Homo sapiens: one gene and its partners. The protein of the gene in region 1 purifies or fractionates together with the protein of each later gene. This does not show direct contact. Each region holds a gene or a part of one and is shown on either strand. Other genes may lie near its edges. The genes, in order: SIRT4, SUCLA2, ACOT9, STOML2, HSPD1, DAP3 and IBA57.

Region 1 (4,008 bases):
CACTCTTGTCGCCCAGGCTGGAGGGCAATGGCACAACAGTCTTGGCTCACCGCAACCTCCGCCTCCCAGGTTCAAGCGATTCTCCTGCCTCAGCCTCCCGAGTAGCTGGGATTACAGGCATGTGCCACCATGCCCGGCTAATTTTTTGTTGTTCTTGTACTTTTAGTAGTGACAGGGTTTCTCCATGTTGGTCAGGCTGGTCTTGACTCCCGACCTCAGGTTATCCACCCGCTTCGGCATCCCAAAGTGCTGAGATGACAGGCATGAGCCACCACGCCCGGCGGAAAAAATTGTTTTAATGAATCCATAAGCATCATTAACTCAAATTCCCTGGATACCACCTTAGTCTAGGTCTTTCAGGCTGACCTCCCTGACCTGCTCTTTTTAATCCTGTTTAGCCTTCCTCAAATGCTATTTTTATCATGTTGCTTGCTTGCTCAGAAACCACTAATAAACCCCTTTGGTGTCTCACAGCAGACCCAACTGCACTGCCTGATTTTCAAATGTAACCATGATTTGGGCCTAACTTTCCCAGACAATCTGGTTTCTGCAAGTCCCAGGTCCAAACCTCTACAGAGGCCAGGCCAGACTCCTCTGGGATCTACAACTTCCCTTCATTTGGAAAGCCCTGTTTCCCGCTCTTGCCTAGACAAACCTGAGCCAATCTCAAGCCCCCTGTACCCATAAAAGCTTTCTTGGGGCAGGCGCTGTGGCTCACGCCTGTAATCCCAGCGCTTTGGGAGGCCGAGGCAGGCGGATCACGAGGTCAGGAGTGAGTTCGAGACCAGCCTGGCCAACATGATGAAACCCTACCTCTACTACAAATACAAAAAATTAGCTGGGGGTGGTGGCAGGCACCTGTAATCCCAACTACTTGGGAGGCTGAGGCAGGAGAATCACTTGAACCCAGGAGGCGGAGGTTGCAGTGAGCCGAGACCGTGCCACTGCACTCCAGCCTGGGCAACAAGAACAAGACTGTGTTTCAAAAAAAAAAAAAAAAAAAAAGCTTTCTTGGGCCAGGCATGGTGGCTCACACCTGTAATCCCAACACTTTGGAAGATCAAGGCAGGAGGAGGGCTTGAGCTTAGGAGTTCGAGACCAGACTAGGCAACACAGCAAGATCCTGTCTCTATTTAAAAAAAAAAATTTTTTTTTTAAAAAGCTTTCTCAACTGATTATTCCAATCTTTACTAAATCTGTTTATTTGAACATGCACAGCATATAAATCAAGAACCACACAATTTCACAATCATGCGTTGTCATTTATCATTAATTATGTGCTTTTCTTTGTTTGTTTGCTTGGTTGTTTTTTGAGAAGGAGTTTCGTTCTTGTTGCCCAGGCTGGAGTGCAATGGTGCGATTTCAGCTCATTACAACCTCTGCCTCCCGGGTTCAAATGATTCTCCTGTCTCAGCCTCCTGAGTAGCTGGGATTATAGGCATGCACCACCATGCCTGGCTAATTTTGTATTTTTAGTAGAGACAGGGTTTCACTGTGTTGGTCAGGCTGGTCTTGAACTCCTGACCTCAGGTGATCCCCTGCCTCGGCCTCCCAAAGTGCTCGGATTACAGGCGTGAGCCACCGTGCCCGGCCAATTATGTTATTTTTGTGTCTTCCCAAATATTACAAAGTTCTTGCATATAAAGTGGGCCATGTTTTATACTTTGGTTTTTGTTTGTTGTTTGAGACAATCTCCCTCTGTCGCCCAGGCTGGAGTGCAATGGCACGATCTTGGCTCACTGCAACCTCTGCCACCCATGTTCATGCAATTCTCCTGCCTCAGCCTCCCGAGTAGCTGGGACTATAGGCGCCCGCCACCACGCCTGGCCAATCTTTTATTTTTAGTAGAGACTGGGTTTCGACATATTGGCCAGGCTGGTCTCAAACTCCTGAGCTCAAGTGATCCGCCCCCTCAGCCTCTCAAAATGCTGGGATTATAGGTGTGAGCCACTGAGCCCAGCCTATACTTTGGTTCTGACCACTAAGAAGCACAGTAGTTAGTGTTATAATGTACTACATAGTGTAACGTATGTACACCATACATTCTAGGCACCCAGTAAATATTTCAGCATTGGCAGACTGACTTCAGCCCTCAGAGGAGCCTCTCTAGGGCTTAAAGAAATAAGTCTCCAATTAGCTACAATTATTGCCAGACCCATAAGCATGATACCCTCCCATGTATCTGTTCCCTCATTATTGATTGAGTTCTGACTACTGCCCGGCTACGTTATGGTCTATGTATCTAGCCATCCTAGGCATTGGAAACCCAGCAGTTTATAGCACATGCTATTGGTGTTCAGCTCATATTTTCCTCAGAACATGCTAAAGGCCACGTTCGAACAGTTTCCTTTCTTTTTGTTTTTTTATTGAGATAGAGTCTCACTCTGTTGTCCAGGCTGGAGTGCAGTGGCACAATCTTGGCTCACTGCAACCTCTGCCTCCCAGGTTCAGGCGACTCTCGTGCCTCAGCCTCCCAAATAGCTGAGACTACAGGCGTGCGCCACTATGCCCAGGTAATTTTTTGTATTTTTAGTAGAGATGGGGTTTCACCGTGTGGGCCAGGATGGTCTCGAACTCCTGACCTCAAGTGATCTGCCTGCCTCTGCCTCCCAAAGTGCTGGGATTACAAGCATGAGCCACCGCACCCGTCCCAGTTTCCTTTCTCTGTTTTTTTGTTTGTTTTTTTTTTTGACGGAGTTTTGTTCTTGTTGCCCAGGCTGCAGGCTGGAGTACAATGGCACAATCTCGGCTCACCGCAACCTCCGCCTCTTGGGTTCAAGCTATTCTCCTGTCTAAGCCTCCCGAGTCGCTAGGATTACAGGCATGCACCACCACGCCCAGCTAATTTTGTATTTTTAGTAGAGACAGGGTTTCTCCATGTTGGTCAGGCTGGTCTCGAACTCCTGACCTCAGGTGATCCGCCCAACTCAGCCTCCCAAAGTGCTGGGATTACAGGCGCGAGCCACCGTGCCCAGCCAATTTCCTTTCTTAAAAAAATTTTTTGTAGAGACGGAGTCTGGCTGTGTTACCCAGGCAGGTCTTGATCTCCTGGCCTCAAGTAATCCTCCTGCTTCAGCCTCCTGAGTTGCTGGGATGACAGATATGAACCACAGCACCCTGGTGGACACAATTTTCTTTCTTTCTTTTTTTTTTTTTTTTGAGACGGAGTCTCGCTCTGTCACCCAGGCTGGAGTGCAGTGGCGCGATCTCGGCTCACCACAAGCTCCACCTCCCAGGTTCACGCCATTCTCCTGCCTCAGCCTCCCGAGTAGCTGGGACTACAGGCGTCCGCCACCGCGCCCAGCTAATTTTTTGTATTTTTAGTAGAGACGGGGTTTCACCATGTTAGCCAGGATGGTCTCGATCAACTGACCTCGTGATCCGCCTGCCTCAGCCTCCCAAAGTGTTGGGATTACAGGCGTGAGCCGCCGCGCCCAGCCTACACAATTTTCTTACAAGCAGTTTCCTGTGTCTCTCTTGCCTCAGATGTTCTCTGCCCACGGAAGCCTCCTTGGGAGGAGCAGAGTCAAAATGTTAGGGAATTAATTCCCCTAGAGTGATCCTGGACCCATGAGGGATGAGAGATGGTGAATAAATACCCTAGCTTCAAGGCCAAGCACAGTGGCTCACACTAGTCATCCCAGCACTTTGAGATGCCAAGGCAGGAGGATCACATGAGCCCAGGAGTTCGAGACCAGCCTGGGCAACATAGTAAGACTTCGTCTCTACAAAAAATAAAAATTAAATTAAAAATTAGCTGGGCACGGTGGCGTTTGCCTGTAGTCCCAGCTACTTAGGAGGCTGGGGTGAAAGGATCACTTGAGCCCAAGAGATTGAGGCTGAAGTGAGCTATAATCACACCACCACATCCCAGTCTGTGTGACAGAGTGAAAGCCTGTCATACACACACACACACACACACACACACGTGCACACACAAACACAAAAGAAAATAAAAGAAAATCACCCTAGCTTGCTCAACTTTCTTTTTTTTTTTTCTTTTTGAGA
Region 2 (4,446 bases), on another chromosome or scaffold:
CTGAGACTGAGGCAGGAGGATCCCTTCAGCTCAGGAGTTTGAGACTGCAGTGAGCTGTGATTTCACCACTGTCCTCCAGCTTGGTCAACAGAGCAAGACCCTGTCTAAAAAAACAAATAAATAAGTTAAAAAAAAAAAAAAAAAGAAAAAAAAACCCAGCAACCTCTCAAACTACTGTTTAGTATACCTCCACCTTCTGACTCAGAAATCCCATTCCTGGGTATGTATCAATAGAAATTAGTCCTTACATCTGTCAAAAGGCACACATAAAAATGTCTAGAGTGTCCAGAGCAGGCTTATTTATAACAGACAGAAAACAGAAATTAGCTGATTGCCCATCAACAGGAGAATGGATAAACTGTGGTATATGTATATAATAGTATACTACAGAGAAATAAAAAGAAAAAAAGTACTATGGCTCACACATCGATGGATTAATCTCACAAACATAATGTAGAGAGAAAGAAGCCAGAAACAAGAATATATACTTACATGATTTATTTTTATAGCGTTCAAAACCAGTCAAAATTAGCCTATGGTGACAGAAGTCATAATTGGTTGCTACCTTCTGTCAGGGAGTATTGATAAGAGAGAGGACATGAGAGCCTTCTGAGGGCTGGAAACATTGTATATCTTGATGCAGACGATGGTTACACAGGTGAATACATACATAAAAATTAATCTAGCTATCCACTTAAGCTGTACATCTTACTGTACATAAATTATACGTCAAAATAATAATAAAAATTAGTGGGTAGGGGAGTAACTAGCATAAGCCTGGCAAAAAGTCATACACTCAAATATTTTTTGTGATGACTATGAACTAGACAGTGGGCTAGGGACACTAAAAAAATAAAGACACTTGGGTCCCAGCCACAGAGTTCACAGGCATGTAAATAAACAACTGCAACACATATAAGAGCACTAGGTCACTAGCACATAAGTCACTAGGTGGCACCTAATTGGTTAGTTGGTCAGAGAAAATGTCACAAGGTCTCATCCCAGTTTAAATTTTTAAAAAATCTAATGTCTATAAAGAACACTTTGGGGACAACTAGAAAAATCTGAATCTAAACTATATATATTCATGTTACAGCAATGTTGAATTCCTAAGTATGATCACTGCGGTTATTTGGAAGAATGTCCTTATTCTTAAAGACATATGCTGAAATATCTATTTTCAACGAAGGTACACTAGGCTAAAGATACCAAGAAATTGGAGGAGGGTCAGAGAACTTAAACAAATGTTTAAAACAGGCCGGGTGCGGTGGCTCAAGCTTGTAATCCCAGCACTTTAGGAGGCCGAGGCGGGAGGATCACGAGGTCAGGAGATCGAGACCGTCCTGGCTAACACGGTGAAACCCCGTCTTTACTAAAAATACAAAAAATTAGCCGGACGTGGTGGCAGGCGCCTGCAGTCCCAGCTACTAGGGAGGCTGAGGCAGGAGAATGGCATGAACCCGGGAGGCGGAGCTTGCAGTGAGCCAAGATCGCGCCACTGCACTCCAGCCTGGGCGACAGAGCAAGACTCCGTCTCAAGGAAAAAAAAAAAAAAATGTGGAAAACAAATTGCTAAATTAAATGTGTGACCTTGAACGAGTTTCTTAAGACTCCGTACTTCTATGTCCTCATCTACAAAAGCAAAGGGTTGGACTAAGGTCCTTCCAAACTCTAGAGCTGCATTTCTTAATACCAGGGTAGAAGACAGCAACTGTTATAAAGAAAATAATATTGGAAATTTCCATAAGGAGAAATGAAGGCTTTTAAATGAACTTCCAAAAAGATAAAGATTTTGACTAGAATGAAAACGTATTTGTCACTAAATTCCCCATTTTCTAAAAACTAAATAGCACTCTTCTAAGATTCATAAGAAGGAAGTTCAAGGTCAAAAAGTCACTTCTATCGGGAAGCAAACTCACAGAACTCACTACCCCTAGGCTGAAAGTATGAACAACTTCAATAAAAATGAAAAAAAAAAAAAAAGGTAGGGGCGGGAGGGCCCTAAATCAATTCATACTATGACATGTATGAAGAGTTACTTCAGAAAAAAACCCAAAACTCTGGAATTGACTTAGGACACCAATAATGCCCTTCCACAGTTTTTTGTTGTCAAAGTTGGAAGGAAGATGTTTGTTTTCGAAGTTGTGGAGCCAACTCAAGTACACGGCTTTAGAACCAGACACCTCTGGGATTAAATCTCAGCTTTGATCTTACCTCCTATATGACCTAGTCCAAATTACTTGTTCTCTTAACCATAATATGTTCAACAATGATGCAGGTGTTGAATGACTTCCTCACAGTTGCTGAAAAACCTGAGAAACTACACGTAAAGCGCTTAGCACATTACCTGGCACACATCAAATATTCAAAACAAGGCCAGTAACTATTATGCTATAGCCTATCCAGAAATAAGGCTATACAAAAGATTATTTTCTTACCTCTCCAACTGGTTAGGTAGAAAACATAATCTTATTACTGCTATTAACAAGTAGAACAGTATACAACTACTTGGAGGAGAGGGGAAACTTCCCTACCTTGCCCCACAAAAGGCAAGTCAGTAAGCACCGCTGGTCCTCTGACATTCCCACCTATGACAGCTCCCAAGAAACACAAAAGTACTTTTGAAGGGCATTCCCCCCTGCCCAAAAAGGGGCGGCGCAAGTCTCAGCCCACCGTGCCAGACGCCGGAATGGCAGCAGAAAATGTCCTGACCCCCTCACCTCCACTCAGAGCCCACCTGCTCCCGCCCATCTCTTAGAAACTGCAGGAGCAGCCACGGCCGGGCCGCCGGGGATCCTCGCGGACTAAGGGCTGGGTCAGAGCCGCGCAAACATGGGCTCGCTCGTAGTCCTGGCGAGCAGCACTCCCAGGCAAGTCGCCCGAGGGCCTTGCAGGGCACCCAGAAAATGTCACTGCCGGCGAAGTGACCCCGAGCCGGGCCACGGGACCCCTCACACCTCACCCTTTCTCCTGCCGACCCTCGAGACGACAGCGGACTGGAAGGCATTACCTGAGCAGCAGCCCGCTGGGCCGTCCGAGGCCGGTGGTTCCGAAGGGTGGCCACGGCCACTAGCCTGCCGTAGAACATGGAGGCCGCCATTTCTGAGTCGGACCCCGTCCCCTCGGCGCCGCGCGCAGGCGCACAGGCGACAGGCGGCCCAAGGCGCAGCCTCTCTGCAGCGCTCACCTACGCCCCGCCTCGCGCCACCCGTTGGGGGCGGGGCCTCGGGTTAACACTGCAGCCGCTAGACCAGCTCCCTGGCGGGCGCGGAGCAAGCTTTGACCTTTGGAACTGGGCACCGCAGCCCCAATATCTGCCCTGCGGTCAGAGCAACCTGAACACTTCCTAGTGAATTGCAATGTAAAGGTGACCAGCGCCGCCACTTGGGTGATCTTAACTTCTCTCAGCCTCAGTTGCCTCATCTGTAAAATGTGTTTCATTCAAGAAATGATTACCCAGTGTCTACTTCGTGCTAAACAGCCTTGAGCCCTTGGCCTACAGCAATGAATAAAACCATTTGTGATGCTCAAAGAGAAGATGGTCGGTGTAACGCGCTTGTGATGCTCAAAGAGAAGATGGTCGGTGTCATGCGCTTCTGATGCTCAAAGAGATCGGTGTCACGCGCATCCGTGTGAAGACACCGCCAAACAGGGTGTGAGCAATAAGGCTGTTTATTTTAACTGGGTGCAGGCGGGCTGAGTCCGAAAAGAGAGTCAGCAAAGGGAGATAGGGGTGGGGCTGTTTTATAGGATTTGGATGGGTAGCGGAAAATTACAAAGGGGGTTTTTCTCTTACGGGCAGGGGCGGGGGTCACAAGGTGCTCAGTGGGGGAGGTTCTGAGCCAGGAGAAGGAATTTCACAAGGTTAATCACTCAGTTAAGGTGGGGCAGGAACAAATCACAATGGTGGAATGTCATCAGTTAAGGCAGGAACCGGCCAATTTCCCTTCTTTTGTGATTCTTCACTTGCTTCAGGCCATCTGGATGTACACGTGCAGGCTTGGGCTCAGAGGCCTGACAGTCGGCCACTAGTTACCAAAGCTGGTGGCAGGCTGGAGTCTCCAGGGAAGCTATTGATTGATTGATTGACTGATTGACAGGGTCTTGGTCTGTCACCCAGGCTGGAGTGCAGTGACGCGATCACAGCTCACTGCAGCCTCAACCTCCCATGCTCAAGGGATCCTCCCACCTCAGCCTCTGGAGTAGTTTGGGACCACAGATGTGTGTCACCAGGCTTGGTTGATTTTTTTATTTTATTTTTTTAGGGACAGAATCTCTCTATGTTGCCCAGGCTGGTCTCCAACTCGTGGGTTCAAGCGATCCTCCTGCCTCAGTCTCCCAAAGTGCTGGGATGACAGGTGTGGGCAACCACACCCAGCCAAGGATCTGGTTTTTGAAAAGATAAATAAATTTAACAAACCTCCAGCAAGACTGCAAAGAAAAAAG
Region 3 (4,008 bases), on another chromosome or scaffold:
TGAGGCAGGAGAATTGCTTGAACCCAGGAGGTGGAGGTTGCGGTGAGCCGAGATCGTGCCAGTGCACTCCAGCCTGGGCAACAAGAGCGAAACTCTGTCTCAAAAAAAGAAAAAAAAAAAAAAAAGAAAAAGAAAACTGGCTTGAACTCTTTAAAAATATCAATTTTTGAAAGACAGCAAATGGCAGAGAGACTATTCTAAAGAAACAGGATAACCAAATGCAATATACAATCCTTGATGGATTGGGTCCTGAATCAGGAAGATAGCTATAAAGGACATTTTAGGGACAACTGGTGAAATCTGAATACGGATCACATATTAAATAACTGTATCACTGTTGAATTTCTCAGATATAATAAAGGCATTGAGGTTATGGAGAAATACCTGGTTCTTAGGAAATACATGCTGAACTCCTGAATGGGTGAAGCAGTCTCAAACTTACTTTCCAATGATTCATGGGAAAAAATATGTAAATGTGTGTATTTGTAGAGAGAGGGTAAGAGAATTACGCAAATGTAATACAATTTACGTGAAAGGCATACGTTTGTTGCATTATTCTATCTACTTTTCTGTAAGCATCAAATTTTTTGAAATAAAAAATAAGGGAAAAGGGATAATATTTCACTGTGGTAGAATCAAAAGATTTGATGAAACAACAATGGAAACAAAAGAATTAAAACAGGCCGGGGGCAGTGGTTCACGCTCGTAATCCCAGCACTTCGGGAGGCCAAGGCAGGTGGATCACCTAAGGTCAGGAGTTCGAGACCAGCCTGGTCAACATGGTGAAACCCCGTCTCTACTAAAAATACAAAAGTCAGCCGGGTGTGGTGGTAGGTGCCTGTAATCCCAGCTACTCAGGAGGCTGAGGCAGGAGAATCACTTGAACCCAGGAGGTAGAGGTTGCAGTGAGCCGAGATAGCACCACTGCACTCCAGCCTGGGTGACAAGAGCCAACCTCTGTCTTGAAAACAAAAAACAAAAGAATTGAAACAACAGCTTGGGAAAGTGACATGCATCAGCTGGGAGTGAAACTTGCAGCAGTGGCCTCAGTGCTTGAATACAAGCCCCAGGCCAGTCACTGGCCACAGCAGGTCAGCTGGGGCTGGCAGGAAGGGCCAGAGTAGATGGGTGTTATTCTTCCCTCAGATCACTAAGGGACCAACATATTTTTCTATCTTAATTTGGCTTTCCAAGTCAGCTTTCCACGCAGCAGCAAAGATTTTTCACTGCAGACTCCTAAATCAAGTTTCTAATACAAATGAGATTTCCCACAGGCCACTGGACTCTGTCCTGTGCAAAGAGCAATCCCTCCCACCCCAGCTCTACCCCCACAATTAGTTTTTCTCAGTTTGGGTGTAACTGTTGTTAGAAACCAAGAATTCAATTTCAGAGAAAAAAGATGACGTAAAGTAAGTTGAAGTCTATATGGTTAAATGACTTGAAAATGACCATATAAACTCATGAGGCTCTTTTTTTGAGGTAGGGTCTTGCCCTGTCGCCCAGGCTGGCGTGCAGTGGTGCGACCTTGGCTCACTGCAACCTCTGCTTCCCGGGTTAAAGCAATCCTCCCACCTCAGCCTCCCACATCGTCTGGGACTACAGACACATGCTACCATACCTGGCTAATTTTTTTGTACTTTTAGTAGAGATGGGGATTCGCCATGTTGGCCAGGCTGGTCTCAAACTCCTGGGCTCAAGTGATCTGCCCACCTCGGCCTCCCAAAGTGCTGGGATTACAGGCGTGAGCCACCACACCCAGCTCTCATGAGGTTTTTTGTTTGTTTAAAATATATCCTAGCTCTGTCCACTAAAAAGGCCTGGAAACAATAACAAACTAGTAACAATGTACAGTTCTAGTGCCCAGATTTTGATGTCTAAATACCAGTTCCCACTAAAAGGAACCCCAGGACTACTTGGAGAAATGGCTGACTCCAGGCCTGGGGCAGGAAATACGTAAGATGAGCCCAAGACATCTTGTGTCAGACAGCAGGAAGCTATCAAACAGACAGGTGGAAAGGAGCCAGCTTAGAGGAACTCCCACCGCCCAAAGAAGGCACACTTGGAGCATCAAGAGAAACAATGGCTGCAATTTATTGAAATACATGTAATATATTACAACCATGAATTCATAATGATGCTTTTCTGGCAGGACAGTGGCTCACACCTGTAATCCTAGCACTTTGGGAGGCCGAGGTGAGAGGATCACTTGAGCCCAGGATTTTGAGATCAGTTTGGCCAACATGGCAAAACCCCATCTCTACAAAAAATTTAAAAATTAGCTGGGCAGCTACTCAGGAGGCTGAGGCCAGAGAATCACTTGAACCAGGAGGTGGAGGTTGCAGTGAGCCGAGATTGCGCCACTGCACCCCAGCCGGGGCAACAAGAGTAAAACTCCATCTCAAAAAGAAAGAAAGAAAAAAAATTAGCTCGGCATGGTGGTATGTGCCTGTGGTCCCAGCTACTCAGGAGGCTGAGGCGGAAGGATTGCTTGAGCACAGGAGGCCCAGGCTGCAGTGAGCCATGCTCATGACACATGACAATGCACTCCAACCTGGAGAGAAGAGCAAAACTTCATCTCAAAAAAAATAAAAAAACAAAAAAAAAACGGGCTGGGCGAAATGACTCACGCCTGTTATCTCAGCACTTTGGAATCCCTAGGTGGGCAGATCACTTGAGGTCAGGAGATCGAGGCCAGCCTGGCCAACATGGTGAAACCCCGTCTCTACTATAAATACAAAACAAATTAGCCAAGCATAATGGGGCATGCCTGTAGTCCCAGCTACTTGGGAGGCAGAGGCAGGAGAATCTCTTCAACCCAGGAGACAGAGGCTGCAGTGAGCCGAGATTGCGCCACTGCAGTCCAGTGTGGGTGACTGAGCGAGACTCCATCTCAAAAACACACACACACAGAAAAAAAAAAAGAAATTTAAAAACATGATACTTTTCTAAAAAGCTAAAAAACTGGGAAAAGCATGTCATCACTAGCTAGTGAACCAACTCCTTATTCTGAAAACATGTAAATAAAAGACAAGAATGAAGCATTGATCCTAACTCCATTTCAAACCCAATCGCCCTAGTTGTTAAGGGAACGCTCTTCTTTACAGAATTCCAGCTAACAAACATAGAAGGAATGACAAAATTTGAGAATTACTCTAAACTGCCTAATGATACTAATTAAAGCAATGATCAGCAGTGGACATTGAAAGCACTGGAAAAAGACTGATGGGAAACTCAGCTATTTGCAGGATGACAAAGTACACCCCTGTAGATTGTTGCTGATCAGAAGAGGAAAAACTGAACTTCACAAAGGAGAGATTAGGCTGTAACTGCTTGAACCCACACACTAATCTTAGCATCACTGTGAGTGGGACAACCTGTACCTCCTGATACGATGCAATATGAAATACGAGATATACAACATCATCTATGTAGTACTCTCACCAAATATGCTCAACCTAAATCTAATACAAGGCTTTAGATCTAACTTCAGTTTAGAGAAATTACTAGGGATAGAGAAACAAGATCAAAAAACAAACAAACAAACCACCATGAGAAAGCAATAGAACAAATCCAGAAAGTGGGACACTATTTAGAACAAATGATCCAGCCTCTCAACGAGTGAATAAGAAACAATAGGGGAAGACACAACTGTTCTGGATTAAAACAGATTTAAGAGATTGCACAACTCAGCTGGGCATGGTGGCTCACGCCTGTAATCTCAACACTTTGGGAGGCTGAGGTGGGTGGATCACTTGAGGTCAGGAGTTCGAGACCAGCCTGGGCAACATAGTGAAACACCCCCCCATCTCTACTAAAAATACAAAAATTAGCCAGGCATGGTGGCACATGCCTGTAATCCCAGTTACTCAGGAGGCTGAGGCAGGAGAATCGCTCAAACCCAGGAGGCGGAGGTTGCAGTGAACCGAGATCCCACCATTGCACTCCAGCCTGGGCAACAAGAGCAAAACTCCATCTTAAAAAAAAAAAAAAAAAAAGGATAATATTCTC
Region 4 (4,731 bases), on another chromosome or scaffold:
AAAAATAAAAACCAAAATCTTGGCAGGGAAGCTAGAGCCAGAATCAGGAAAATCTGCTTCCTTGTTCCCAGACTCCCTGGCCAAGCCCAGCTCCACTAACTCATCTTGACTCGATCAAGTTCCTCATCAAGACTTGCATCTGTACCCTGGACATCTCTGCTGCTCCCACTGGAGAGTGAGTCTGGAGTCCCTGGCACTGGGGCTTTGGTGAGGGCTCCATATACACCCATGGCCTGAGGAGAGGAACAGAGAGAATACCATGAGGACACTTGACAGAGGTGCAGCCCAGCCTACCAATGGCTAAACGGGAAAAGATGGCATGGGGGCCAGTAAGTTGGTTTTCCTTTCTCCCTCTCTCAAACCTGTCTTGTAAGCTCTGGAGTTGATTTTAGGAATCTTGCAAACCATCAGAGTAAAGTGACTCTCAGAATACCAGCACAAGTATCTACCAAAAAAAGGTATCTCAAGAACTTCCATATTTGCAGGACTGAGTGGAGATGTTTCATTCTTAGATTCCATCTCTACAAAGAATGAAGGGAGGTCTAGGGCCAAGGCACTCTGAAGACCTTTATGGTATGTAAGTGTTGATGACGGTGGTGGGGTCTCAGTTTGGTCCCTGGCACCAGTGCTCTATGCTGGGTCCTCAGAGAGCTCTAACCTGAGCCACCATGCTGGTGACATCGCCAGGGTTGGAGGGCAGTAGGATAGTGTTGGAGTCCTTGGCCAGTTTGGAGAACGCGCTGACATACTGCTCGGCCACAGTCAGTGAAGCTGCTGCATCTCCATTCTGTGATCACAGGGGGATAAAAATCAGAGATCACCGATACGGAGAAGAAGGGGGGGATGGGGAATGAAGAAAGCAGTTCACAATAAAAAGGACCATGTAATCTGGCTCAACAGAGCCCACAGAGGCGGAACTCTCCTCAAGCGTAGATAAGAGAACCCCTTCCACTGTCAATTCCTGTCCCCATTCCCACCCAGGGGCCTCTCACATGTTGTGTCAGAGCTGCAGCCAGGATTCGAATAGCTTCAGCTTTAGCCTTGGCCTTCGCCAGAACTGCACTGGCCTCTCCTGCAAGAGAAGGGACAGAGCTTGCTTGACCCATGAAGTCAAAGTACCCCAAAGATCCTGCCCCAGCACCAATCTTCAAAGGCCCATGCCTTGCTCCTCCCTCAGCCTCTACCCTCTCCTGACCTGCTGCCTGATTTATCTGTTCAGCCTTTTCTGCTTCGGAGGCCAGGATCTGGGCCTGTTTCTTCCCTTCTGCCACATTGATGGCCGACTCTCGGGTCCCCTCAGACTCTAGAACTGTGGCCCGTTTCCGCCGCTCTGCCTCCACCTGGAAGCCCACAACAATCCCAATCAACAAGCCAAGGGAGACTGATACAGACATGCAACTCTACCCATCATAACAGGAGGGAAGTCTGGATCCTCCTGGTACTGGAGCACCCTGAGGCCCTTTTCCCACCCCTCCTTGGCCCCCACCTGCATCTGCATAGACTCTTTCACCCGGGGTGGCACATGGATATCCTTGATCTCATAACGGAGGCAGCGGATACCCCAGCAGTCAGCAGCTTGGTTGATGGCATCCACAATGCTGGCATTCAGGGACTCCCGTTCCTGGAAAAAGAGGTGTAAGCCCCACAGCCTCAACCTACCTATCAAGGGCCTACACTGAGAAGGGCCTGGGACTGATCTTGACCTTCAGAAAAGATTAAGAGTGTCAGGTTTGTGTCTTCAAACCCTAACTCTGGCTCAGATCTGCTTACCCGGAAGACTTTGTCCAGAGAGAGTTTGCCGAGCTCTGATCTCATGGTTGTTTGAGCTAGCTGGGTGACGGCATACTCAGGGTCCTCCACACCGTAGCTTGCCTGAGATGGACACGGATAGTGTAAGAAGCTTGGGCACAAGATTTTAGTGAAGAGGGCAACTCAAAAGGCTGGATAAAGTAGGGGACAGGTACCTTGTAAGGGTCCATGATGCGCAGGTAAAGGACTCCATCGATTTGCAGAGTTACATTGTCTGTAGAACCAGGAGAGAAAACGGGGAAAGTCAGGCCTCTAGGTCCCAACCAGTTCTTTCTACTAAGCTCTGGATCTACAGCAACCACATCCTAATAGCCTCAGAGCACCCATGTCACCCTGAACCCCTCACCGAGAGTCACAGCCGACTGCTCAGGCACGTTGATGACAATTTCCTTGAGACTCTGCACATATCGGATCCGGTCTAACACAGGGATGAGGATGTTCAAACCCTGGAAAGAGGAGTCATGGGTCCTCAGAAGGCTGGGAACTATTGGGTTGGGACCTAAGCTAGTCCTGGAGTATGTAGGGAGTCAACACATGGAACATGCCCAGAAAAGCAGCAGCTCCTACCAAGAAATAAGTCCTCAGAAGGCTGAGGTGTCACTGGTAAGAAAACCCAAGAGAACAGGAATGCAAGACTAGGCCCCTGAATGGAGGGGAGAGTCATGAGAATCGGAGCCAGCAGAATAGCCATCTCTATGCAGACTGAGAGGTAGGGCTGAGAGTGGGCAGGGGAGATTCCCAAGAATGGGGCCTGTGAGATGCATAGGAAAAGGTGGTAACATGGGGATGATGGTCAGCAGCCTGGGCCCTGTCAGGTCTGGCCTACAGAGTCGGGAGCTAACAGTGCGGGCAGGCCCAAAGGAAGTCCTCCCGACATTGCATGTCGTGAGGGATTGGTCATCTGGCTGGCCCAGGGTGGGCAGAAGAGGTTTCTCACAGGCTCCAGGATCCGGTGGAATCGGCCCATTCGCTCCACCACCCAGGCCTCCTGCTGCGGCACGAACAGTACCACGGTGTTTCGGGGCAATCCAGAGGAGGCGCGGCGCGGAGCGCGGCCAGAAGCCAGTAGAGAGCCCTGAAGGAAAGAAGAGGGTGAGCAGAGATCCCATCTGGCCAGACACGCCGCCCCTCGGTCCTGAAGGCATCTCCATAAACCACGACCCTCAGGATCCTCGGAGAATCACATGGGGACCATGACCTCTGACCCCAGTCCTCTCCAAAAGTTGGAATTTCGCTCTTTTCCAGCGGAGAACCCAGGTAATCTCTGTCCTGACCCTCTGGAAAGGTTGCCTCGCTCTCACCCTCAGCAAAAGGGCCCCAGTGCCCCGCGCCGCGCGCGCCAGCATTTCCCACCGCCGCAGCGACCTCCGGAACCAACGAGACGAGCGGAGCGGTCGCTCCCAGAAGCCTACCCGAGCCTTTCCTCTTGCAGTTCCGCTCCCCCGGATGTACTTCCGGCAGCTCCCTCCCCCGCTTCAACACTCACCCAATCAGCGTTACTTGGTCGAACGGCGCGTCAAGTTGTTCCCTGGGAAACGCAGACCTTCTAGAGAAGGGCGAAGGCTGTGGTTGTTCTGGGTTTAGCTGTTCACGCCGAAGATCCCCGGCCTGATGGCCAAAATGGAGGCTATTTTTCGCGGGCATTATCACTCAGACACCACGCACTGAATTATTCGTCCTCACCCGAGACTCAGTTTGCCCACCAGAGCGTAGTATCGCCCCCATCTGTCACCATAGCGACTAGTGGATTGGAGCTGACTCGTTGCCATGGTTGCCATAGTGATATTCTCTGGTAGTCCCGCTGTGTTGTGCCCAGGACTCCCACTGGGGACTGACCCCAATCCCGTTGCCATGGAAACTGGGCCTAATATTGCCTGGCGATTGGGCCGAGATTTTCCCCTCCCCTCTTTCCTCAAAGACACTGCAGCTCCTTCCCTGTCTTCCCAAGCAAGGTTTGTTATGCCCGGTCTTAAATACAGTCCAGCAAACAGCCTCAACGTTCAACCTTGTCTGGAGCATGTCACCTTGCCCACATCCCTAATGCTCTGGTAGTCAAGAGACCTCCGTAGTCACCTCCATTTTACATATGAGGGCACTGAAGTTCTGAGGGGCTAAAGTCATTAATAGAACCAGTATTAGAATCCTGATCTACAATTCAGAGTTCAGCTTCTACGGCTGAACTTTACCCACCAACCCCTCCGAAAGGAGAAAAACCAGGCCCCAGGAATCAGCAGGGACTAGCCTAAGACCTCATGGGCCCAGGCCTGTTGCCTCTCTGGTAGAAAGGGCTGAGTCCCAGCTCCAGGAAGGCCCTCCATCCCCCTTCACACCCTCTCCCCAACAACAACAACAACAACAAAAGTAGAGCTTAGTTCAAGTTTCCAAACAAGAATTTATTCTTTCTTTTTTAATCTTTTTTTCTAAAAAAAAGTACCAGGTACAATTTTTTCCTGTTTTTGATTTGCTTTGTTTTTTCAAGTTTCAGCAAATGCTTGTTCCCCTCAGCCCAGCCCCAGGAGTTAGGACTGAGGCTGGGTCAGAGTCTGGAGTGGGGAATGGGGTAGTTTGGAACCACATGACTGAGTTTGAGGGGTGCCCCTCACCCCAGCTGAGGTAGGTGGGTCAGAGTCTGGCCAGGTGAGAGGAGGCACCCCAGTGCTTGGCCCTGACTCTGCCCCCTGGACACCTTCTTCAGTCAGGACCCCAAAACAAGGAGACACAGGTAGGAGGAGAGGGACAACTGGAGTCTGGAGCCCTAGGTGAGGGGTGGTTAACCCCTGTGTGTGTGCATACATGCACACTCACACACACATACCACACAAAGACAAGCTTGTGCACACACACATACGCATAACTTGGCTTTCAGAGATAGGTCAGAGGGTAGGGGAAGTGAAGGGACTGGGGAAGGACAGGGGAAGCTGA
Region 5 (4,008 bases), on another chromosome or scaffold:
TATAGTCTCTTTCACTGCATTTCCAAATTCTCAATTCTCACAACTGTGGTAATTATTACCAGCCTTACTTGAGAAAAAAACATCGAAGGTCACACTTACTGGTAGAGCCAGGACAAGACCATAGGCCTTGACTCTCAAGTCCTACATCCCTTGTAGCATACACTTCTACCTTTCAAAACTGAGCTCGGTAGCTCATGCCTGTAATCCCAGGACTTTGGGAGGCGGAGGCAGGCATATTGCTTGAGTCCAGAAGTTTGAGAAGCCTAGGCAATACAGTGAGACCCGTCATTACTAAAAGTAAAAAAATTAGCTGGGCATGGTACTGCACCTGTAGTCCCAGCTACTTGGGAGGCTGAGACGGGAGGATTGCTTGAACCCAGAAGGTGGAGGTTGCAGTAAGCCAAGATCGTGCCACTGCATTCCAGCCTGGGTGACAGATCAAGACACCCTGTCTCAAAAAAAAAAAGAAACCCCACAGATTTAAGTCAATAAGAATAGTCAATATAGATCAAGTCAAGAATAGTCAAGACAGATCAAGACACTGTCTCCAAAAAAAACAAAAAAAAGGAAACCCCCTTATTCAGTCAATAAGATTTAGTCAATATAGAATAGTCAGTAAGCTCATTCTTAGGCCAGACTTGTGGCAAATTAACGGGAATTTAATCCAACCCCTACCTTCCAAAGAGCCAAAAGAAACAGATAGTTGTAGTATCTAATTGTGAAATGTTAAACTATCTATAAATTCCAGACAAGTATAAACATTCAGCAAACCATTATCACATTTATTTTACTTACTGCACCACCAGTAGCAATAGCCATATCTTTAAGCTGGTTCTTTCTATTGTCACCAAACCCTGGAGCCTTGACTGCCACAACCTGAAGACCAACCTTTAGCCTGTTAAGAATAGTTGATAGTAAGATTTAAATGAAATAAAAATGCCTATCTGTTTAATTCCCCTCAAGCTGTTACTAGATTACTTAGGACTCCCTAAGTAATCTGGTTTGGTTTTTGTGTTTTTTTGTTTTTTTTTTGCTTCCTAGCAATTTTTGATCAAATTAAGACAGGAAGTATCTGAGACAGTTTAGGCTATTTTCTATTAATTATACTTGTCCATATCCGTTTACCTTCTTAATAAACTGTTGGCCTGGCCGGGCGTGGTGACTCAGGCCTGTAATCCCGGCACTTTGCAAGGCCCAGGCAGGTGGATCACGAGGTCAGGAGTTCGAGACCAGCCTGGCCAAGATGGTGAAACCCTGTCTCTACTGAAAATAACAAAAATCAGCCAAATGTGGTAGCAGGCACCTGTAATCCCCACTACTCAGGAGGCCGAGCAGCAAAAATCACATCACAGTAAGTTATAGGATACAGTGATAACTATTATGAATGGTAGAAAAACAGTAATTACTAAATATTACATTTGAGGGTCATTTAATAAACATCTCCATATATTAATGCTGAGTTTTGAATGAGCAATGTTCTGAATTCACTTCTTTTATAAATGTTATACAAAAAGCTGACAGTATTGTTAAGCTCACCTGAAATTTTTACCAGGTAAATGAATACTTGGAATGTGTAATCAAATGTCCATTTGAGAGCAGATTGTGAAACAGAAGCAACGTTCAAACTTCAAGACAGCTGGTCTATTTTATTAAGGACCCAAATAAAAATCAGAGGAATAAGCTATATGCTATGTAAACTGGATATCCCACTTTTCAACTAGCAGTAAAATGGCTTAATGAAAACTCTGTAGGCTTGTTTTTTTCTGGCCTCAAGTCTTTTTTTTGTGTGTTTTTTTTTTTTTTTGAGACAGAGTCTTGCTCTGTCGCCCAGGCTGGAGTGCAGTGGCGAGATCTCGGCTCACTGCAACCTCCGCCTCCTGGGTTTACGCCATTCTCCTGCCTCAGCCCGCCACCACGCCCAGCTAATTTTTTGTATTTTTAGTAGAGACGGGGTTTCACCGTATTAGCCAGGATGGTCTCCATCTCCTGACCTCATGATCCACCCGCCTCGGCTTCCCAAACTGCTGGGATTACAGGCATGAGTCACCACGCCCAGCCAAGTCTTTTCTTAATCCCTCCAAAAAAGCAAATCCAAGCTAAGAAAAACATTCCAGGGTAAGGCAGCTCATTAGAGCTTTTGGGTCAGATGAGCACGTGTAATGTCTAAAACGTACCTGTTAATGTATGCATTTCTACTATAACAAAATGGAAAGAAAAGTCTTGCTTCTGACATACTTCAATTCTGAGATAAGGAAGAACAAACATTTTAATAATGCCCTTAGATTGTCTGCAGCATGAACATTACCTGTCTTAAAGTTTAAACTAATAGTAAACTATAGCTTAAAATGTAGATTTAAATAAGTGACTAGACCTCACCTTATTTTAGATTGGGTGCTATTTTCTCTACTTCAGACTATTTAGTAAACATTTAACAACAGACTAAATACTTGATCACAGCCAAGGGTAGTGGCTCATGCCTGTAATCCCAGCACTTTGGGAGGCTGAGGTGGGAGAATCACTTAAGATTCACCAACAGTTTAAGACTAGCCTAGGCAACATATTGAGGCAACATATTGAGACCTCGTCTCTACAAAAAAATTAAAAGATCAGCCAAGTGTGCTTGTGCAAGTGTGTAGTCCCAGCTACTTGGGAGGCTGAGGCAGGAGGATTGCTTGACCCCAAGAGTTCAAGGCTGCAGTGAGCTATGATCGTGCCGCCGCAGGCCAGCCTGGGTGACAGAGTCTGTCTCTCAAAATAAATAAAAATATTCGATGGTGAAATACACTTACATCTGAGTTATTTATTTAGAGACAGAGTCTCGCTTTGTTGCCCAGGCTGGGGTGCAGCAGCACAATCTCGGATCACTGCAACTTCCGCCTCCCAGATTCAAGTGATTCTCCTGCCTCAGCCTCTGAGTAGCTGGGATTACAGGCACACGCCACCATGCTCTGCTAATTTTTATATTTTTAGTAGAGACGGGGTTTCACTATGTTGGCCAGGCTGGTCTGGAACTCCTGATCTCAGGTGATCCACCCGCCTGTGCCTCCCCAAGTGCTGGGATTATAGCTGTGAGCCACCATGCCTGGCTCTGAGTTATTTGGAAGTTAGTTGTTTACTTCCCTGTTCTATGCAAAATAATATTCTGAAAATTTACATATTTTTAACCAGAAAAACCTTAAAAAAACAAAACAAAACAAAACAAAAAACAAGATTGACACTTGAACCCCGGAGGCTTGAGCTGAGATTGAGCCACTGCACTACTGCACTCCAGCCTGGGTGACAGAGACTCTGTCTCCAAAAATAAAAATAAAAAATAAAAAAATTACAAGGCCGGGCGCAGTGGCTCACACCTGTAATCCCAGCACTTTGGGAGGCTGAGGCGGGCGGATCACGAGGTCAGGAGTTTGAGACCAGCCTGGCCAATATGGTGAAACCCTGTCTCTACTAAAAATACAAAAATTAGTCAGGTGTGGTGGCACGCACCTGTAGTCCCAGCTGCTTGGGAGGCTGAGGCAGAACTGTTTGAACCTAGGAGATGGAGATTGCAGTGAGCCAAGATTATGCCACTGCACTCCAGCCTGGGCCAGGGAGTGAGACTCTGTCTCAAAAAAAAAAAATACAAGATTCAGTCATGTGCCTTCAAAACAACTGTAAACACTTGCAAAATACAGAAAGGTACCCATGTGCTAAATTAGTCTATTCTATGAGAAAGCTGATCAAAATAGTAAAGACTTTGGGGTTCCTTCAAAAACACAACCATAAGGATACATTAGAGCACACCTGATTTACACAATTACAATTCTAGATACAAACCCAACTGGATCAAATGTGGAGGTACACATGATGGAAACTGCAAACAGCAATACAAATAATTCTGTCTTTCACCGAGAAATATAAATCAACAAATACCACTGCTTATTACCTATTCAAGACGAGTGTACTTAGAGCTTCTCCATCAACATCTTCAGCGATTATGACCAAAGGCTTACGGTGAGCATTGGCAATTTC
Region 6 (4,008 bases), on another chromosome or scaffold:
TGACCTCCCGGGCTCAAGCGATCCTCCCACCTCAGTCTCCAGAGTAGCTGTGACTACAGGTGAATGCCACCATGCCCAGCTAGTTTTAAAATTTTTTTTTGTAGAGATGGGGTCTCACTTTGTTGCCCAGGCTGGTCTCAAACTCCTGAGCTCAAGGGATCCTTCTGCCTTGGCCTCCCAAAGTGCTGTGATTACAGCTGTGAGCTACCAAGCCTGGCCATGAAGGAATTGTTTTTTTGTTTTTTGTTTTTCTTGAGACGGAGTCTTGCTTTGTGGCTCAGGCTGGAGTGTAATGGCACAATCTTGGTTCACTGCAACCTCCGCCTCCTGGGTTCAACCGATTCTTCTGCCTCAGCCTCCAGAGTAACTGGGACTATAGGCACGCACCACCACACCTGGCTAATTTTTACATTTTTAGTAGAGACAGGATTTCACCATATTGGCCAGGCTGGTCTTGAACTCCTGACCTCGTGATCCACCCGCCTTGGCCTCCCAAAGTGCTGGGATTACAGACGTGAGCCATCACACCCGGCCAATGAAGGAATTTTTAATGGCCAAATCTAAGATGATTTGAGCACCAAAATAAAAAGTGACAGTAATGATTTAGATTCTATTAAATAAAAATCCACAAGACCATACCAGCTGCGGAGGCTCCATGCCAGGTATAACTAAAGTAATGGATACTAAAACCAGTAGGTGGAAGTTTGAGAAGTAACAGGATCTTTACCTAGTCTCAAAGTATATCTCTACAACATACATATTAATTCCAAAGCAAAATAATAACTTTACTGAAGAGAAACCAGATGGACAACACCTCAGCTAACAGTTCCAAAATCATTACCAGTAATGGGAGAAATGTGCCTCCTGATAGGATGCACTCACTCAGACATGTCATCACTTCTAACATCACTTCTATTCAGGAGGAAACCTCAGACAACCCCAAAAAGTGACCTACAAAATAGCTGGCATGCACATGCCAAAAACATAAAGATTTCAAATGACAAAGACTGACAGACTGTCACAGATTAAAGGAGACCAAAGAGACATGACAACTTTTTCTTTTTTTTGAGACGGAGTCTCGCTCTGTCACCCACGCTGTAGTGCAGTGGCGCAATCTCGGCTCACTGCAACCTCCACCTCCCGGGTTCAAGCGATTCTCCTACCTCGGCCTCCTGAGTAGCTGGGATTACAGCCACGCGCCACGACGCCTGGCTAATTTTTTGTATTTTTAGTAGAGACGGGGTTTCACCATGTTAGCCAGGATGGTCTCGATCTCCTGACCTCATGATCCGCCTGCCTCGGCCTCCCAAAGTGCTGGGATTACAGGCATGAGCCACCGCACCCAGCCAGAGACATGACAACTTAATGTAACACATTATCTGGGATTTATTTTTCTATAAAAGATACTGGGATAACTGGCTACATCAGAATAAATCCCACCAATTAGGTAAAAGTATGATATCAATGTCAATTTTCTGACTTTGATAATTATGCTCAGGGTATATTAGAGTATCTTTGTTCTTAGGAATGAGACATTATTTGGAGACAAAGAAGCATCAAGGCCAGGCGCCGTGGCTCACGCCTATAATCCTAGCACTTTGGGAGGCTGAGGTAGGCGGATCACTTGAGGTCAGGAGCTTGAAACCAGCCTGGCCAACATGGTGAAACCTCGTCTCTACTAAAAATACAAAAAATTAGCTGGGCGTGGTAGTGGACGCCTGTAATCCCAGCTACTTAGGAGGCCGAGACAGGAGAATCACTTGAACCCGGAAGGCGGAGGTTGCAGTGAGCCGAAATTGCGCCATTGCACTCAAGCCTGGTTGACAGAGCAAGACTCCGTCTCAAAAAAAAAAAAAAGAAAAGAAACTCTGGAGAAAGACGGAGACGGATAAAGCAATGATGATCAAGTTAATATTTTAGGAATCCAGGGGAAGGGCATACAGGAATATGATTTTTCTCTAAGTCTGAAATTATGTCAAAATACATAGATTAATAAAAATATTTTTCTTTAAACAGGATAACAATCTAAGTAGAAACAAATTTTCCTTTGACTTGACCTTTCCCAGCAACTCCTGGGGCAGATAGGCTTTCCGGGGCTTAAAGAGAGACCCAGTCTGGCTCAAAGCCGACACAATGGCGCCTCCATGCTGAAAGAAAAGAGAAAAGGCTGAACTGGAAAAAGTTAAAAAGGATGGAAAACTGCATTAATCATCTGTAGATTTTTTTTTTCTTTCTTGGGCATACAGTGTTACAAAAGTGTGGTCTAGCACAGTTAAATGGCAACTAAATTGGTTATTCCAGATTTGGCTCTGACAATAAACTGCTACCTGATTTTAAATTTACCATGACATATTTGTGGGTCTCAAACTCTTTTCCAAAGACGGTAAGGAGATACAAAAACACTTTAAATGTCTGCAAGCAAAATAAAATTAGGCCAATATTTAAATAAAATGGTTTTGAATAAACTTACTTTGGAAAGATTATAAACCACATATATATAGATTTTAATTCAGACTTTATTTCTAACTTGGTACAGATACAGGAATTAAATAAGACATAATAACTTACTGTCCATAAAATTAGAGACTGTAAAGTATTAGCAATGAAATAGTAGAACATGTTTAAAATGATAATACATTTCTTTCTGAAATGTGTGAGGTATCATATGCACTTACCCAATCATTTTTCATCATTTTCCTCAAGTTGTGAACAAGTGCTAATTCCTCGGGGGCAATCTGCATATCGGACAGAAAGAGAGAAGAGATCATCACGTGCCTTTCCTAGATGTTCTCCCGAAACAATTGACAACAATTTTTTTTTTTTTTTGACAGAGTCTCGCTCTGTCGCCCAGGCTGGAGTGCAGTGGCGCGATTTGGGCTCACTGCAACCTCCACCTCCTGGGTTCAAGCGATTCTCCTGCCTCAGCCTCCTGAGTAGCTGGGACTATAGGCGCGCGCCACCAGAGCCTAATTTTTTTGTATTTTTAGTAGAGACAGGGTTTCCCCGTGTTAGCCAGGACGGTCTCAAACTCCTGACCTTGTGATCCACCCACCTCGGCCTACCAAAGTGCTGGGATTACAAGCATGAGCCACTGCACCTGGTGACAACAATTTTTTTAAAACCCTCAACTAAGACATAATTGTATACCTGAAGGTACTCCCTCTAGGATAAGCCACGTAGCCTCTGGCCCTAGAACTGCCATGCTTCTGGAGATTAACAGTCACTGAGAAAAACACCCACTGCCCCAAACCAGCCCCATTTTGATGCTTCTGATCTCCTCTGCTTAGACCATCTAGACTCATTTTGAAAAAAGAATCAAAAGACAGATAAAAATTAAGAAAGAAAACATAGCTTCTGCTGTCATTCTCTTTCCACAACATACTCCCTTAGTTTTCAATGAATAGTGGAACTCTTGGCATTACCTCCTCCTCTGATTCCATTTTACTGTTTATCTTTTCTTTTTTTTTATTTTTTTGAGACAGAGTCTCATTCTGTTGCCCAGCCTGGAATGCAGTGGCACGATCTCCACTCATTGCGGGCTCTGCCTCTTGGGCTCAAGCCATCCTCCCATCTTAGCCTTCCAAGTAGCTGGAGCTACATACAGGTGCAAACCACCATGCCCAGCTAGTTTTTTATATTTTTTGTAGGGACAGGGTTTCACTGTGCTGCCCAGGCTGACCTCAAACTCCAAACTCCTGGACTCAAGCAAATCACCTCTTGGCCTCCTAAAAGTGCTGGGATTTATCAGCCATCACACCAGGCCTTGCTGTTTATCTTCACATATATATACGAATATGTATGTGTGCATATGCATATACGAATATGTATGTGTGCATATATACGTATATATACATATATACATATATGAATATTATATATACATATATACATATATGAATATTATATATACATATATGAACATATAGGTATATTCGTATATTATGAAAACATATGAATATATGTATATATAAATATATATGAATATATGTGTGTATATATACATATATG
Region 7 (3,985 bases), on another chromosome or scaffold:
TCTGGCCAGATAGAGGTGGGCTCTGGACTGGTGAGGCTGCATTGCGGAGGCGCGCACACCCAGCTGGGCCCTTATCTGTAAGGACTGGCTGGCCTGGGAGGGGCAGTCTCCCAGCCAGAAGGTGGAATTTTTTTTTTTTTTTGAGATACCAAAACATCCTAAGGTACAGGAAAGAAATTGTCAACACACACACACAGTACCATAAACAAGGCCCAGCAGAAAGGCAGACAGAAGCACACACACCAATGTTCTGATCTTAGAGTAAGCAGACACATCACATGGAATGAGGATGTTTAATATATTTAAAGAAAACAATTTATGCACAGGAAGCAAGAGACTATAAAAATGACCAAGCAGATTTTAAAAAGAGAACTTGTTGAAATAAAAATAAAATACTCTAAAAAATATTCCATGATGTGTTTCCTGAAGAATCGGGAACTGTTTGAAGAAATGACCCAAAGTGCAGCACAGAAAGACAGAGCTGGAAAATATGAGATGGGATGAGACAAGAAGATGGAGAGTTTAGTATGACATCCGCAATTTACGAGTAATTCCAGAAGGAGGGGAAAGAGAATATGGGGTGGAGGCAAGTATTCAGAGAAATACGGCTGAGAACTTTCCCAAACCAACAGGAGCCCCTGCTCCTTAGGTTCAGGAACCAGCAGCTCCCAAGCAGCATAGTTAAAAAGCTCTACCCAAACAGTCACGTCTTGGTGAAAGTACAGAATCTCATGACAAAGAGATCTTAAGGCAGAAAAGAAAGAGATTATCTGGAAAGAAGAAAATAAGTAGTTGATTAAAAGCAACAGTGGAAGCCAGAAAGATAGTAAATAATATCTTCAAAGTCCTGGGAGAAAATAGTGATAGCCTAGAATTGTGTACCCAGAAAATCCGTCTTTCAAGAATGAGGGGCCAGGCGCAGTGGCTCACGTCTGTATTCCCAGCACTTTGGGAGGCCAAGGCAGGTGGATCACCTGAGGTCAGGAGTTCAAGACCAGCCTGATCAACATGGTGAAACCCTGTCTCTACTAAAAATATAAAAATTAGCTGGGTGTGGTGGCATATTCCTGTAATCCCAGCTACTCGGGAGGCTGAGGCAGGAGAATCACTTGAACCCAGGAGGCAGAGGTTGCAGTGAGCCAAGATTGTGCCATTGCACTCCAGCCTGGGCAATAGAATGAGACTCTGTCTCAAAAAAAAAAAAAAAAAAAAAAAAAAAAAGAGGGCTAAACGCATTTTCATACCACGAAACTGCCCTCACTCCGGAGTTTGCTGCCAGCAGAGCCTAGAGCGTCTAAGGCATGTCTGGGCTTCTGGCGAGGGATCCTGTGGGGAAGCTGGAGATGGAAGAAGGAGTGAATAGGCAGGAAGGTGGATTTGTGGGCATGTCTAAAACACCACATCTAGAAGCTTCTACTTAGAATGCCTACTTTTGGAGTTTATAAAAAAGATGCCACATGTTGAGTTGGGAGAGAGGTGCCCAAACCTACAGTGTTCTAAAGTCCCCCTACTGGTCGGAAGGAGGGCACGGACACTGACTTCAGCATCTGTTACAAGGCTTATCAGAGTTTTCAGATAATCTCTAAAAGAATGGAAATATATCTTCCAAACTATAGAGGGAAGACCATGGAATTTAAAAGCCAGTCCTTCAAGGAGAAATGAACAAACTCAAAATCGTAGTTGGGAGTGTTTTTTTTTTTTTTGAGACAGAGTCTCACTCTTGCCCAGGCTGGAGTGGAGTGGCATAAACACAGCTCACTACAGCCTCAACCTTCTGGGCTCAGATGATTCTCCTGCCTCAGCCTCCTGAGTAGCAGGAACTACAGGTGTGAGTCATCACACTCAGCTAATTTTTTTTTTTTTTTTTTACTTTTTGTAGAGATGGGGTTCTCACTGCATTGCCCAGGCTGGTCTTGAATTTCTGGGCTCAGGTGATCTTCCCACCTCAGCCTCCTGAGTAGCTGGGACCACAGGTGCATGCTAATTTTTAAAATTTTTTGTTTTTAAATGCTGGTCTTCAACTCTTGTCCCCAAGTAGCTGGGATTGGGGCATGAGGCACTGTGCTAACTTCATGTTGAAATTGAATTGCCATTCTAACAGTGTTAAGAGATGGGGCCTGTAAGAGGTGATTAGGCTGTGAGGGCTCCACTCTCCAAGGGCGGAGTTAATGTTATGAAAGGGTAAGTCCAGCCCGCTTGTGCCTCTCTTGCCCTCCAGTGTTCAAAGCACCATCTTGGAGGTGGAATTCCCAAGTCGGCCAGTTCCTGGATCTTGGACTGTCCGGTCTCCAGAACCGTGAGCCAATAAACCTCTGTTCCTTGTAAATGAGTCAGCCTCAGGTATTCTCTTGTAGCAGCACAAATGGAGGCAGACACTTCCTTCACCAATCTCATGGGAGGCCCACTCCTGTGAGCTGCCTCTAGTTCCCCAGGCCACAGACTCCATCAGGGCTCACCTGGAGCCGTCCCTGTCTCACCTGGAAGCTCTCCCACTCCTCTGGCCAGCCTGGGCATCTCCACCCAATATGAGTGATGGCGACTGATTCCCTTACTTTAGCAAGCTGGGAATAAGGAATGTTTGCCTGTTCTTATTCAGGGGTCTCTGCATCTCCACACTTGCACAGGTTGTGTGTACATACATTTTCCTGTCTTTCTGGTAAGCCCCTGGGGTGGAGCTCTGGGCCACAGGGCAGGAAAACTCAGTGTTGCTAGGAACTGCCAGACATTTTCCCGGAGTGAGTGCAGCATTTACATTCCCACCAGAAGTGTGCCAGGTTCTTGTCATACTGCGTCCTCGCCAGCGCTTGGTGCTGTCAGTCTTCTTAGTTTCCATTTAGAGATTCAGTGTTTAAATTTTGAACGTCTTGGGTGAACACCTTGGTTTGAGAAAAGTAAGAAAAAGGGTCTGTCTGGCTATGGGCCATGGAGACCCAGGGCAGTGCTCCACGTGCCAACCCTGGGGCAGGGAGCCCAAGCTAGGACTGTGACTGTCTGGGCTGTGGGCATCTGACCATCTCCAGTGTCCCCGTCTTTGATTTCCCTGGCGATGGTGCTAGCTTAGTTTGTGCGCATCGGCATTTGTGGGAGAAATGAAGGATTAATACATTTTGTTTTATGTCAGACTCTCTCAGTGAGAAGTTCTCAGGGACAATAATAGCAGGGGGTCCTGCTGAAGAAAAACTGGGAGATGGCTGAGCTCTGGTCCATCTTTCATTGATTCATTCATTTCTTCATTCATTCAACCATGTATTGAATGCTTATAGCCAATGAAAATAAAGTACACAGTATATTTTATTGCTACGGGCTCTATGGTGAAAAATGAAGCAGGAAAGCGGGACAGGGTGTGTGTGGTGGGGACGGGGTGTGTATGGTGGGGACGGGGTGTGTGGTGGGGGGACGGGAAGTGTGTGGTGGGGACGAGGTGTGTGGTGGGGACGGGGTGTGTGTGGTGGGGACGGGGTGTGTGCGGTGGGGATGGGGTGTGCGGTGGGGACGGGGTGTGTGTGGTGGGGAGATGGGGTGTGTGTGGTGGGGACGAGGTGTGCGGTGGGGACGGGGTGTGTGTGGTGGGGAGATGAGGTGTGTGCGCTGGGGACGGGGTGTGTGCGGTGGGGACGGGGTGTGTGTGCTGGGGACGGGGTGTGTGCGGTGGGGACGGGGTGTGTGCGGTGGGGACGGGGTGTGTGCGGTGGGGACGGGGTGTGTGCGGTGGGGACGGGGTGTGTGTGGGGGGATGGGGTGTGTGGGGGAGGACGGGGTTTGTATGGTGGGGACGGGGTGTGTGGTGGGTGGGGTGTTTGTGGTGGAGACAGGGATGGGGCGTGTGAGGGCACTGGAGGTGTGGATAGCAGTTGGATGCCCAGCTGGGGGTAGGCAGTCTGGAGGGTCCTGAATTTGGGAGCTCAGATGTGTGGGCCACCCGGACATGCTGGAGAAGGGCATTTGGGGAAAACGGCTCTGAGGGGTGGACACCTGCCCTCTGGCC

The links.
Region 2: the proteins of SIRT4 (region 1) and SUCLA2 purify together in Homo sapiens (co-immunoprecipitation; one large-scale study listed by IntAct). This does not show direct contact.
Region 3: the proteins of SIRT4 (region 1) and ACOT9 purify together in Homo sapiens (co-immunoprecipitation; one large-scale study listed by IntAct). This does not show direct contact.
Region 4: the proteins of SIRT4 (region 1) and STOML2 purify together in Homo sapiens (co-immunoprecipitation; one large-scale study listed by IntAct). This does not show direct contact.
Region 5: the proteins of SIRT4 (region 1) and HSPD1 purify together in Homo sapiens (affinity purification with mass spectrometry; 4 studies listed by BioGRID and IntAct, with this or other methods). This does not show direct contact.
Region 6: the proteins of SIRT4 (region 1) and DAP3 purify together in Homo sapiens (co-immunoprecipitation; one large-scale study listed by IntAct). This does not show direct contact.
Region 7: the proteins of SIRT4 (region 1) and IBA57 purify together in Homo sapiens (co-immunoprecipitation; one large-scale study listed by IntAct). This does not show direct contact.

The regions. Positions count from the first base shown.
Region 1 is NC_000012.12:120,305,163-120,309,170, reverse strand, and holds part of SIRT4 (NAD-dependent protein lipoamidase sirtuin-4, mitochondrial), read right to left. Parts: intron 1-4,008. UniProt on the Homo sapiens protein: Acts as a NAD-dependent protein lipoamidase, biotinylase, deacetylase and ADP-ribosyl transferase. Catalyzes more efficiently removal of lipoyl- and biotinyl- than acetyl-lysine modifications.
Region 2 is NC_000013.11:47,998,170-48,002,615, forward strand, and holds the start of SUCLA2 (succinate--CoA ligase [ADP-forming] subunit beta, mitochondrial precursor), read right to left. Parts: upstream 3,105-4,446; 5' UTR 3,101-3,104; coding exon 3,011-3,100; intron 1-3,010. UniProt on the Homo sapiens protein: ATP-specific succinyl-CoA synthetase functions in the citric acid cycle (TCA), coupling the hydrolysis of succinyl-CoA to the synthesis of ATP and thus represents the only step of substrate-level phosphorylation in the TCA.
Region 3 is NC_000023.11:23,708,430-23,712,437, forward strand, and holds part of ACOT9 (acyl-coenzyme A thioesterase 9, mitochondrial isoform a precursor), read right to left. Parts: intron 1-4,008. UniProt on the Homo sapiens protein: Mitochondrial acyl-CoA thioesterase. Catalyzes the hydrolysis of acyl-CoAs into free fatty acids and coenzyme A (CoA), regulating their respective intracellular levels. Regulates both mitochondrial lipid and amino acid metabolism.
Region 4 is NC_000009.12:35,099,940-35,104,670, forward strand, and holds the start of STOML2 (stomatin-like protein 2, mitochondrial), read right to left. Parts: upstream 3,193-4,731; 5' UTR 3,156-3,192; coding exon 3,111-3,155; exon of another isoform or gene 2,885-3,110; coding exon 2,747-2,884; exon of another isoform or gene 2,256-2,746; coding exon 2,156-2,255; exon of another isoform or gene 2,024-2,155; coding exon 1,965-2,023; exon of another isoform or gene 1,873-1,964; coding exon 1,771-1,872; exon of another isoform or gene 1,622-1,770; coding exon 1,487-1,621; exon of another isoform or gene 1,341-1,486; coding exon 1,196-1,340; exon of another isoform or gene 1,073-1,195; coding exon 993-1,072; exon of another isoform or gene 788-992; coding exon 659-787; exon of another isoform or gene 234-658; coding exon 96-233; 3' UTR 1-95. UniProt on the Homo sapiens protein: Mitochondrial protein that probably regulates the biogenesis and the activity of mitochondria.
Region 5 is NC_000002.12:197,489,402-197,493,409, forward strand, and holds part of HSPD1 (60 kDa heat shock protein, mitochondrial), read right to left. Parts: coding exon 3,923-4,008; intron 896-3,922; coding exon 796-895; intron 1-795. UniProt on the Homo sapiens protein: Chaperonin implicated in mitochondrial protein import and macromolecular assembly. Together with Hsp10, facilitates the correct folding of imported proteins.
Region 6 is NC_000001.11:155,730,083-155,734,090, reverse strand, and holds part of DAP3 (small ribosomal subunit protein mS29), read right to left. Parts: intron 2,736-4,008; coding exon 2,676-2,735; intron 2,148-2,675; coding exon 2,058-2,147; intron 1-2,057. UniProt on the Homo sapiens protein: As a component of the mitochondrial small ribosomal subunit, it plays a role in the translation of mitochondrial mRNAs. Involved in mediating interferon-gamma-induced cell death. Displays GTPase activity in vitro.
Region 7 is NC_000001.11:228,178,964-228,182,948, forward strand, and holds the end of IBA57 (iron-sulfur cluster assembly factor IBA57, mitochondrial isoform 1 precursor), read left to right. Parts: 3' UTR 1-3,294; downstream 3,295-3,985. UniProt on the Homo sapiens protein: Mitochondrial protein involved in the maturation of mitochondrial [4Fe-4S]-proteins in the late stage of the iron-sulfur cluster assembly pathway. Operates in cooperation with ISCA2 in the maturation of [4Fe-4S] proteins.